2 separate regions of the Homo sapiens genome follow, and region 1 is linked to region 2. The links come from fine-mapping of genetic effects on gene expression. Tissue or cell type: nasal epithelium. Region 2 holds a variant in brackets; the other region holds the start of a gene. All regions are shown on one strand. Distances are from middle to middle.

Evidence for each region. PIP is the estimated chance that this variant, and not a neighbour inherited with it, causes the effect.
Region 1: it holds the start of NUDCD3, and the variant in region 2 is fine-mapped to the expression of NUDCD3 in nasal epithelium (TOPMed, PIP 0.98).

Annotation. Positions count from the first base shown.
Region 1 is chr7:44,487,593-44,493,602 of GRCh38, forward strand. NUDCD3 (NudC domain containing 3) reads right to left here and starts at 3,066. Exons shown (of 6, transcript NM_015332.4): 1 at 2,817-3,066. The coding sequence starts at 3,008. RefSeq lists silencers at 2,648-2,817, 4,883-5,009.
Region 2 is chr7:44,438,447-44,444,456 of GRCh38, forward strand. The region is part of intron 2 of NUDCD3 (NudC domain containing 3); the gene reads right to left. Among named protein-coding and RNA genes, the nearest start is that of NUDCD3, 49 kb to the right of the region's middle. The variant C/T (reference allele first, on the strand shown) is at 3,665.

The DNA of each region.
Region 1 (6,010 bases), 49 kb after region 2:
AAAACCCTTGTCAATACTGAAATCACCTTTACAAACCTCCTGTCAAATGAGCTTTTGTGGATAAAAGAACAGGTTCCAGCCAGGTGCAGTAGCTCATGTCTGTAATCCCAGCACTTTGGGAGGCTGAGGCGGGTGATCACCTGAGGTCAGGAGTTCAAGACCAGCCTGGCCAACACGGTGAAACCCCATTTCTACTACTAAAAATACAAAAATTCTCTAGGCATGGTGGTACATGCCTGTAAACCCAGCTACTCGGGAGGCTGAGGCAGGAGAATCACTTGAACCTGGGAGGAGGAGGTGCAGTGAGCCAAGATTGCGCCACTGCACTCCAGCCTGGACAACAGAATGAGACTCCATCTCAAAAATAAAAAATAAAAAAATAAAAAAAAGAACAGGTTCCCAGGATTCACCCTGATCTACCCAACCAAAATATCCAGGAATATGTGCTTTTAAAAGTTCCTTGGCCAGGCGCAGTGGCTCACACCTGTAATCCTAGCACTTTAGGAGGCCGAGGCAGGCAGAACACAAGGTCAGGAGTTTGAGACCAGTCTCGCCAACATGATGAAACCCCATCTCTACTAAAAATACAAAAATCAGCCGGGCGTGGTGGCGCACACCTGCAGTCCCAGCTACTCGAGAGGCTGAGGCAGGAGAATTGCTTGAACCCAGGAGGCGGAGGTTGCAGTGAGCTGAGATCATGCCACTGCACTCCAGCCTGGGCGACAGAGTGAGACTCCATCTCCAGGAAAAAAAAAAAAAAAAAAAGAAAGAAAAAAGTTCCTTAAGCGATGCTGATGGTTGAGAACCACTTCCAGAAAACATGACACCTCTCTTAAGCATCTGCTGGAGACTGTTGTCCCCTTGGTTTCTGTGAAACTTATTGCTCTCCACCAAGATTATTCCCCAAGGCCTGTTCTTCACCTTTGGCTCTTCTCTCTCCCTCGGACCACTCCAGTTGCTCTAGCTCCCAAAAGATCTAGTCCAGTAATTCCAATAGCCTATGGGCAGGGACTCCTACCTGCAACTTCAAGTTCAACCTGTCTAAAACTGAACTTTTTCCCCTAAACCCAGGTGACAGTTCAGTTAACGCATTATCACTATTCCAGTCACCCAAGTTGAAACCTTGGATCATCTTTGACCCATCCCTCCCCTTCCTCCATCCCTGCTCCCCATCTCCACTACTTCATTAGACTGGTCACCAAATCCTAACCTATGGAAGTGTCTTGTAAGAGGTGTTACCAGGTAAATGAGTTACCAGGTTAATGAGTGCTCTGTCAGTTCATCTGTGAAACAAAGACCAACCTCTCAGGTTATATTAAGGGTTAAATAAGATAACGACCCCAGAATATAAAACATCTGATACTATACATATTACTCAGTATATACTCCTTTCTCCTCCACATCTTTCTGCAAACTACAATCAATCTAGACAAAAGTGTTCTCATCCTACTATGGAATGGTTAAACAACAGAACAGGAAGATTTGGAATCCACAAAATGAAATTTTTAGTTTCAGCTCTACGGTGAACTGGCTGTGTGTTCTTGGTCAAATCACTTAACCTTGCTGAATTGGTACGTAAACTTGAAACTTATCTGTTTCACAGAGACACTGAAGATCAAATGGCAAGACTTCATTAACCTGCCATAAGATCCTGCTAAAGGCCACCTCCAACAGCTCTCTCATCACTAAGATGGCACTTATGCCACTGACAAGGACGAGGAATAGCCTTAAGTTCTGAAATTGAATCCTAATGGAACCCCATTCCTCGTTTGGCCCTATTACCCTGGTAGCTACCAAGACATTCAAAGCTTTGGCTTCTGCTGAGGAAAGTAACATCTTACCAACCTGCAGCATGCATTAAGACTTCAGGAGGAAACATCTGAAGCATTTTATAAACTGTAACATCTAGAGAACTGAGGGAGGTATCATCAGCATTTCTATCTTCTTGGGTTTCTACAAATAGGCTTAATACTTGGCTGAATAGTTTCTTTTAATCTCATCAGAAGTCCCACCTCTCTTATAAAAACTTCACTTCTCAACCATCATTTCTATTTCCTTTCTTTACAATGGGCTCCATCAAATAATTGCCCTTAAAAAGTTTTCTATTACTTTCTGGGTTTTCTCTCTTTAACTGTGTCACAAGGAGAGAGAAACCATTACTTAAACACCCGTATCACCCTCACCTGCGGCAACTAAGAGTGTAAACTACATTCAGCAAAAGGTTGCTTACCACTACATTCAAAAGTGCCCAGTCAACTTCACTGAATGAGTATTGACAGCGTTTCCAACATACAATAAACTTAACCTGGAGGGTACGGAATTAAGCTCAAATAGAAATTTTAATAAGCACTACATTGACAGTCTTTGACCTGGGAAGTCACATTTCAAACAAGCGACCACACCCATTGATCAACACAATGCCTCCGTCATCCCCGCCAGCTCAAGTCTTTGGTAGTTCTGGGGCATGCACGTTTCTGTTGCTGTAAATGTCCTTCCTTCTGTCTGGCCTGCATGGATTTCGCTCCCTGACTAGCGGCCCCCAGCACCGTGAGGGGTACGCGCTGGCGGGTGCTGAGTAGGGCTCTTAACAGTCGGCTTACTACTTCTGAAACCTCAGGACGTCCGGAGCGAACACCTCAGCGGAATAAGCTGACATCCAATCCGCGCTTCAAATTACTGAAGCCATTCTCACAAGCTCAACCCCAGGACACCAGGAAAAGGAGGAAACAGGCTGGGAGAGCTTGGAGGAGCGGGCGCCAGGAGTCAGGGCAGGCCGGGGGCGGCGGCTCCCCAGACCGCAGGCCCGCCCGCCTCACCTGCAGCACCAAGGCCTGCGCGGCCCCGGGCGGGAAGCCCATGCGGTCCGATGGGTGGCGCAGCAAGCGATAGAAGTCTGTCTTGCGGTAGAGGAAGCCAAAGAGAACGCGCAGGAAATCCTGGACGTTGCCCACGTGCTGCAGGATGCCCAAAAGGGCCTGGTCATACAGCTCGGCCGCCCCTGTCTCCATGTCGCCTCCCGCCCTAGGTACGCTTCACACACACAGCGCCGCCTCAGACCTGCCGACTGGCCACTTCCGGCGTCCGCAGCCAACGGCTCCGCCGGACGGCGCGGCTGCGGAACTTCCGGTCCGTGCTCGTTCGGCCCCCGCGGCCCCGGGCTGTTTTCCCCAGACCCAGCTGCCCCACGGGCTTTGCCTTGAGGTGGTCTTAGACAAAAGAGCCCGACAAGGGCAGCAAGGAGGTTCCTACGCGGAAGGAAGCCCGTGGCTTCTGCTGCGCTGCGAGGGCTTGACCGCCATGTTTGAAGCGGGCGGAAAAAAATTATGGGGCGTGCAGTGTCACGTGACTGCTCGGATTTTTGTCACGTTGTCTGTGGATCCTTTCTTATTTCTGTGTTGAATTCCAGCCTGGGTATTTGGAACCTATGGTTAAAGATGGGGCTAGGGTAAGCTTTTTGTTAGTGAGCCAGAGACGGGAAAATGCGTATATGTGGGATGTATGGGTTTCTTATTAACAGATCTGTGAGTTAAACTCAGGGCGTTGCATCAGAAGAAAGTCAAGATGACGAAGAAAATAAAGAGTGCATTCAACGTATATTAAGTGGAAAGAGCTAGATTCAGAATAGAGAATCCGTATGCCATCGTTGTGAAATATGTACGTGTATGTGTGTGTATAGTATGTATATACATATATACGTCATATATACATATGTTGTTAGTGTCTGTCAAAGTATAATCTTAAAAAAGTAAAAAGCATGACACTCATACAAATATATCATGAACACATATCCAAGATTTCTTCAGCAAATTAACAATGATATGGTAAAGCTGGTTCAAAAGCATTTTGAGGAAGTGGAGATTAAACATTTTGACAAAGCATTAGAGTAAGATTAGGTTGGATACAAAGCTGGCTGGTGTTCTACAAGATGATAAAACCATAGATTATCATTTCTAGTGTATAGAAATGATTTGCACCTCTTCTAGATTAAAACATGCAAGTTAACATGTCTTCATAGTGTATAAGCTTTAATGAATTGTAAATAAAATCCAACTCAGGTAAATTGCCCTAGAACAGTGGTTCTGAAACTCTTGATTTAGGGACCATTAATCCTCTTAAAATTTGTTGAACATTCCAAAGAACATTTGTTGATATGGGTTATGCTTATCAATATTTACCACATTAGAAATTAAAACATAAAATGTTTAAATATTTATTTAATCATTTTTAAATGACCATAAAACACATTACATGTTAACATACTTTTATGCAAAAAATAATGTTCTTCAAAGCAATAAAAGTTCAGTGAGAGGAGTAACATAGTTTTACATTTTTGCAAATCTCTTTAATGAGCCTACTAGAAGACAGCAAGATTTGGCCGGCACAGTAGCTCATGCTTGTAATCCCAGCACTTTGGGAGGCCGAGGCGGGAGGATCAGGAGTTCGAGACCAGCCTGGCCAACACAGTGAAACCCTGTCTCTACTAAAAATACGAAAATTAGCTAGGCGTGATGGCAGGTGCCTGTAATCCCAGCTCCTCTGGAGGCTGAGGCAGGAGAATCGCTTGAACCCGGGAGGCAGAGGTTGCAGTGAGCCGAGATCACACCACTGCATTCCAGCCTGGGCGACAGAGCTAGACTCCGTCTCCACAAAAAAAAAGAAGACCACAAGATTCTCACATCTGCATTCACTGCAACATAATTTGCATTATGTTGTTTTCATTGAAGTATATGAAAACATGCAACCTCACACAGACAGTTGCAAATGAGAGGAATATTTTGTCTTTTCAAATAAATGTGGCTATTTGTCTTTAAAATGACATCAAAATTCTTCTACAAGCGATAGTTTCTATTTTTTTTATTTTTAAGAGGCAGGGTCTCCCTCTGTCACCCAGGCTGGAATGTAACGATGTGATCATAACTAACTGTAGCCTTGAACTCTTGAACTCAAGCAATCCTCCTGCCTCAGCCTTCTGAGTAGCTGGAACTACAAGCACATGCCACTGTGCCTGGCTAATTTTTAAATTATTTTTATAGAGACGAGGTTGGGCCTACATTGTTCAGGCTGGTCTGAAACTCATGGGCTCAAGCGATCCTCCCCTCTCAGCCTCCCAAAGTGCTGGAATTATAGGTGTGAGCCACTGCACCCAGCCCTGTAACTGGTAGTTTCTTAAAGGTTACTTGCCATATGGAATCTAAAACTGTATCTATAGACTTTTCATACTCTGTTACATTAATATCGATTGGTCTTTCACTTTGAATGGATCGTTAATAAATGCATGATTTTATACCATCATGTATTAATTAGTCATTTGAAAATGTTGGTCCACTGTGTTATGCAGCTCTTCCAAATGTTCACTCGTTTTATGCAACGAGCATATCTTGCCCCCAGATCTTGGTTTCTAATATCATTTCATTATATAATATCAAAAAATAACATTTGTTAGAATTACCACTAAACTCATCAGAGAAGTCTGTCTTTATTGACAAGCACTCAAGCTCATGGAAGCGGGATATGGGTTTTTTGAATTCTAATTTTAGCTTAAAAACTTGAACTTTATTATTGGAAGTAGATACAATCAATTATTTTCCTTGAAGAGACAGGCTCACTTCATTCTGTCATTCAAGTAAAAATGATGCTCTGTGACTTGTTCAATTGGCAACTCAATCACACAAGTGCTTTGCATCAGTGCAACCATTTTGCTTCAGTATGAGGCAGACATGTCTTATGTGTACTTCTCTTTTAATCATGCACTATTAAAAAGACTTGTTCTCAAGTGGAGAACTTTTAATAAAACAACTTTTAATAAAATTAATAATTAAATGCTATCAGGAGCATTCTTAAGTGAAACTGAACATTTTTAACCTGTAAGTGTAAGGCAGTGCATACTAGTCGAGTTTGGTGCCGTTATGGACTGAATGTGCCTGCCCCCCACCAGATTCATATGTTGAAGCCCCAGTCCTCAATGGGACTATATTTGGAGTCACATTGGTGGTTAGAAGGGCCTTTAAAA
Region 2 (6,010 bases):
CTTGGAAGCTTTCTAATTCATCCACAGCTTACACCCTAGATTCTGAATCCCTTTCCTCAAAATCATGGCCTTGTAGACGTTGCACCAATCCTAGACTGTCCTCAACCAGCCCTAATCAAGACCCCCCCACCCCACCCCACACCCAGTGCTAATTCTGACCCCACCCTATACCCAGTGCTAATCCACACCCCACCCTCATATCAAGAGAGTGCTAAGAGAAGGGGACTGTAGACTTCTATACACAGCTGGAGGATTTAGTCCCCAGAACAGTATTTTTCAAAGGGGAGGTATAAAATCTCCTTAGCAGAGCAGAACAGAATAAAATGGAATGAAATACGCAAGATACACTGCCAGAAAAAGAGCAAGCTCTGTTTTGTGAAACTGCCACTATGCAGGTACGTGCATACCTGGAAGCCTTGTTAACATGTATTTCTCACTATAACTACAGGTTGCAGCCAAAGTTTAAAAGCCACTGGCCATAAAAACCTATCACATTCATAGAAAAGGAGGTAAGAACAGAAGTTCTTGCTACACCTCGGTGAAGAGGAGGCCAGTGAGGCAATGAACTAACAGAGGGGCCCACAACAGCAATTACAAGCAGTGCATGAGGATGACTAACTCAAAAACATACAGCAGGAGGAGGAGTAGCGAGTGAGCACTGAGCAGTGAGAGCGGGTGGCCTGGGGGAAAGAAGGACATACCAATCATCATTGGAAGAAGGTGAAAAACTGGGGGCTCATAACCACAGCAACAACAGAAGTGAGGACACAGGATTCTGTTGGCCAACAATTTGTCAGGGACACATCTACTCCATGACAAAGAACTCACCTATTAAAAGAGGTTGTTAAATGCAGGTGACAGCTCATGTTTAGTTCCTATACATCCAGGTAGAGAGGTAAAAAAGAGGTATGTGTCACAGTGGGGTAGTAAACACACATCCATGTCCTGGCTTGGTCTGCTGACAGGGCCTAGAAGCAGGAGCCACGTGCCCTCTGAGTGCCCAGATCTTGGTTTCTAAATACCATTCAATAAAGGGAATTGGGCTCCCTGGACAATTCCTTTGGACAATGGCTGATTCTAGGACTGGAACAGAGAAAATACAAGATAAACCCAGAGAATCCTGTAGTGCCAAAAAGTAAGGAAGTGCTTAAAAAAAAAAAAAACAGTTGGGGAGGGGGTAGGGGGATGCAAAGATGTCAAAGAACTCAGAAGCCACAATGGCCAGAGCTGGAACAGTGTGGGGGGCAAAATAAATAATACAGTAGCAAAGAATAAATGAACCACCCATGAGTCCATACTGATATAAGTAACTGAATAAATTATAATGAACAAATGAGGGAAGGGGACAAATCTTCCTAATGGAAGTCCAATTAAAAATGTAGAAGGAATGAGGGAAATAGGAAATTGCCATTAAAACATAATTGCCAAGAGCCACTGATGATGCTAACTAACATCAGTAGGACCTTAAGGAAACAGGATATTTGCATAATCTCTAAGTCAGTATCTTCCCCCAAAATATTTATCAATTCCTTGTAGTGGTTTTAACATATGCTAAGAATTTAACAAATAATTTGAAACTCCTCCATCCTCCTAGGAAGCAGGATTAATGCCCCGCCCTTCAGTGGGGCTGGACTTAGTGGCTCTCATGAACAGGGTACAGAGAGGGGACAACGGGCACATGACATTGGAGGAACCTGGCCAACCAGCCTCAGCCACATGATCCAAGCAAACGTCACAGTAATAATTCATGTTAACATCATGTACCTCCAATGTGACATGATGAGAAAGACAAGACACCTCTGTGGTATTCCTCTCCAAATCCATAGCCCTGAGTCTAATCATAAGAAAACACTACATAGACCCAAATTGGGAACATTCTACAACATACCTGGCCTCTTCAAAAGTGTGAACGTCCATGAAAATCAAAAGAAGATGGAAATTGCCACAGACTGAAGGTGACGAGAACATAATGCCTAAATGCAAGGTGACTCCTGGACCTAATTCTGGAATAGAAAAGGGACACTAACTAGTGAGAAAACCAGAAAAATTGAAAAAAAAAAAAAAAAAAAAGCCTGTGATCATTATTACTAACTTGACACAGGATTTTTTTTTTTCGATTTTTCTGGTTTTAGTTAGTTTTCACAAATATATCATGCCAACTAACACTCAAAGAGAGGGAAAGGGGAGGAGGTTTAAGTCTGCAGCTGTGACAATTCAGACCATGGGGTTGAAGCCAGCCCATAGTTTGAATCCTGGGCTTCAGCTCATACTAGGTGTGTTATCTGAGCAAATTCCTCTATCTCATTAAAGCCTCAATTTCCTCATCTATAAAATGGGAACAATAATGATCCCAATTCTTAGCCTGTTGTGAGACTCATAAGCTCTTACCTAGTCTTCTTGCATGTGAGCTCTCTCTCTCACCAACATGAGGCTATTAGTAATACCTGAGTTAACAGTTTCCTTCCCTTGATACTGAATCACAGTCCTAAGCAAAAAGGTTTAGCACCCATTTTCAACTCAAGATGACAGTATTTTTCTCTTTTTCCTCCTTTTCTTCCCATCTCCCATATTCCCACAGTCCCACCAACTTTGAAAAGCAAATAAAAGCACTTTTCTCTCCATAATTTCCCTGCTGGGTGCCACTATTCACAGCACTTGATATAGCAAATTCTGGCAATGCTTTCCCATTTGATTTATCTAGAAGGTTGTTATTTACTGCTCCTGCTGTTTTGGGGGCGAAAATGTTAGTGGTCTACCAAGAGGACTTTCCAAAAATAACAAGACGTGTTTTCACAACAGTCAGTATGTGGAGGGCACTGTCATGTTGGTTTCTTAGCTTTACTCATAGCATGACAACACTGGATTTTTAGGGATTCTTAGACTAAACTACTTTGATATGACTAGTGAGGTTATCTTTTGTTTTCTTGAAGATATTATATCCTGGGAGGACTTTCAGTACCAAGAACCACCCAGTCTTCCAGGGAGAAATGAATTCCACATTGTCCAATTTTGCTCCCGCCAACAATAGCACCAATTTATTCTGCCTGGAGTATGGAAGCATCAGAAACCCTACATACAGCCCAGTCAAAGACTCGCCATGTCTACCCGCCCTGCCCAGCCTCTGTTCAGTCTCTGGACTCTCTGTGCCACCCTCGCAGCTAGGACTACCCACACTTGGATCCCAGGCTTCAGGTCAGGGCTCCATAGCTAGCCCACACATCAGAGCCGGCCCCACCTGCCACTCAAAGAGTACTGGCCCAGGTAACCTTACTGTTGTAGGTCCCAGGACACAGATGGGAACAACGTGGGACTTACAAACTTGGAGTTAATCAAAAGTGATTAAGTGGCTCTCAGAGCCTCTGGTCAACAGAGAAGGCCCCTGGGAGGAGCTGGACATTCACACAGAACTCTGATAAATGGCAAGACAGGGCCAGCTATGAAGACCACAGAGATGAGCAGCCTAGACAGTGTCCCACACAAACTCCTTGATCCACAGCCACAGCACTGGCTCAGGGCTCATCTTTGCCTCCAACTCACTGTGCCCTTGGGTTCATATCTCCATTTTCACATTTATAAAACTTACAAAATGGGAGCACATGAGTACCTTCCTCAAAGATGTTCCTGGGGTTAATGAGTGAATAGATACAATGCTCAGAACAGTGTA[C/T]GACTCAGAGTAAGTGTTAGCTGCAGTCATCACTGTCACCATCATTAATATTTTTACTGATGTAGATTATTAATACAAATAATATTGTTATCATCAAAGAGGAGAAGCTATCTTACTAGCCAAGATCAGCATAGGGCTTTTTAAAACAGAGTTCAGAATTTAATTAAAAAGTGATTGCAAATCACTGCAAGGTTGGGACAGGGAACAATGTTATTTGGTTGTTTTAAAAGGTCAATGCACAGCTGCCACATGGAGAGTAGACTGCAGAATGCCAAAAGAAGTAGTTCCAGGGGCTGTTTGGGGGCACCAGCATGGAGACTGCAGGCAAGCCTGAGGGTGTAAGCACATGCAGGAGAGTATGCACCTGGGGGACCCAGGGCAGGGCCAAGGACACTCAGGCTGAATCACTTCAGCCCCACGAGGGCTGAAGATGGGAGGGGACAAGTGACAAGATGGAGGCTCACCTCGCCTCATTCATCTTCTGTCTCAGCTCACTCATTGAATTACTTTCCTCTTACCCTCAAGTCTTTAACAAAATTGAACTTCCTCCCTAACTACAAGAGGGGCGGACTCTCCCCTTTTCTTTTTTTTTTTTTTTTTTTTGAGACAGAGTCTCACTCTTTGGCCCAGGCCGGACTGCAGTGGCGCTATCGCGGCTCACTGCAAGCTCCGCCTCCCGGGTTCACGCCATTCTCCTGCCTCAGCCTCCCGAGTAGCTGGGACTACAGGCGCCCACCACTGCGCCTGGCTAAATTTTTTTTCTTTCTATTTTTAGTAGAGAAGGGGTTTCACCGTATTAGCCAGGATGGTCTCGATCTCCTGACCTCGTGATCCACCCACCTTGGCCTCCCAAAGTGCTGGGATTACAGGGGTGAGCCACCGCACCTGGCCTCCCCTTTTCTTTATAGCACCTTCATACTTAACACCATGACATCAAATGACAACGTATTCACACAGAAAGCAGGCATTTTGTTTACTGGTTTATTTATGTTTACTTATGCAACCAAGAGAACCTATATGGCTGTCATGGGAGCCCTACCTTCTAGAAAGAGAACAACCACATCCAGCACAGTTTCTAACACACTCTGCATACAGGTGGGATGAGCTTTGAACACATTCAATATAAAAAAAAAAAGAACAGGTAACAGGTACAATGAGACTGCATGCTAATCTTAAAGAAGACATTCCACAACTTGTTACCTTTAAATTATCAGCTTTCCTATTACATTAAACAAGATTCAAGTAGCCAAAGTCTGAATTTTGTTTTCAATTTTACAAGAAATCTTTTTTTTTCTTTTCTTTTTTCTTTTCTTTTTTTGAGATGGGGTCTCGCTCTGTCGCCCAGGCTGGAGTGCAGTGGCGCCATCTTGGCTCACTGCTACCTCCACCTCCCGGGTTCAAGCAATTCTCCTGCCTCAGTCTCCTCAATAGCTGGGATTACGGGCATGCACCATCACACCCAGCTAATTTTTGTATTTTTAGTAGAGACGGGGTTTCGCCATGTTGGCCAGGCTGGTCTCGAACTCCTGGCCTCAAGTGATCCACCTGCCGCAGCCTCCTTCTAAATGCTGGGATTACAGGCGTGACCCACAGTGCCTGGCCCAATTTCACAGGACTTCTAAGAGCTGGATGCTGTTTAGGCTGAGGTCCTTGACTGTCTAGGTGAAGACCTGGGGCCCAGGTGCTGCTCGGGATAGTGGAGAAGAGACCCCACCTCAGCTCAAGCCCCATCTTCAGTTCTCCTGGGAGGTGGTTTACTGTAAAGTCAGTCTTCTTTATGAGCACCAGCCTCCTCTCATTATACTCTGAAATGCCTGTGTTTGCAAGCAAAAATGTACAACTGGAATTCAAGAGTATAGTCTATGAAATTCTCATAAAAGTGAGATTCCAGGTGTGTTCATCTAAGACTAATGCATTTGGATACCTCTCAGCTTCAAAAGACGCTATCATGTGAAAAGGCTAGAGCTTTTTCTATGAGCAAAACCGAAGGTTTGCTGTATTGAGAACAGAATTTCTGGAATGAGAAGGCTCAGGCCAGTGCAAGGAGGGCTACAGACTCAGGGTCCCTGCCCGCCACTTTAACCTTCTCATCTCACAGGTTATCAACAGATGATAGGATAGGAGGCATCCTATCACCTGTTCCTTGGCCTGTAAATCTAAAAAGAGAAAGCCAGAAAAAGTAAAGCAGCCCCTCTGCCCCTCTTCTTTCTGAGAAAGCATCCAGATAATCACAAAGGTTTGCTCCCTCCAAGACCTGTCCGAGGTGTCCCAGGCCTGGGGACAGGGGAAGGTGGATGTAAAGAACAGAAAGCTTTTCTGGCTGGGAGACAGGGCCCAATCCCTGAG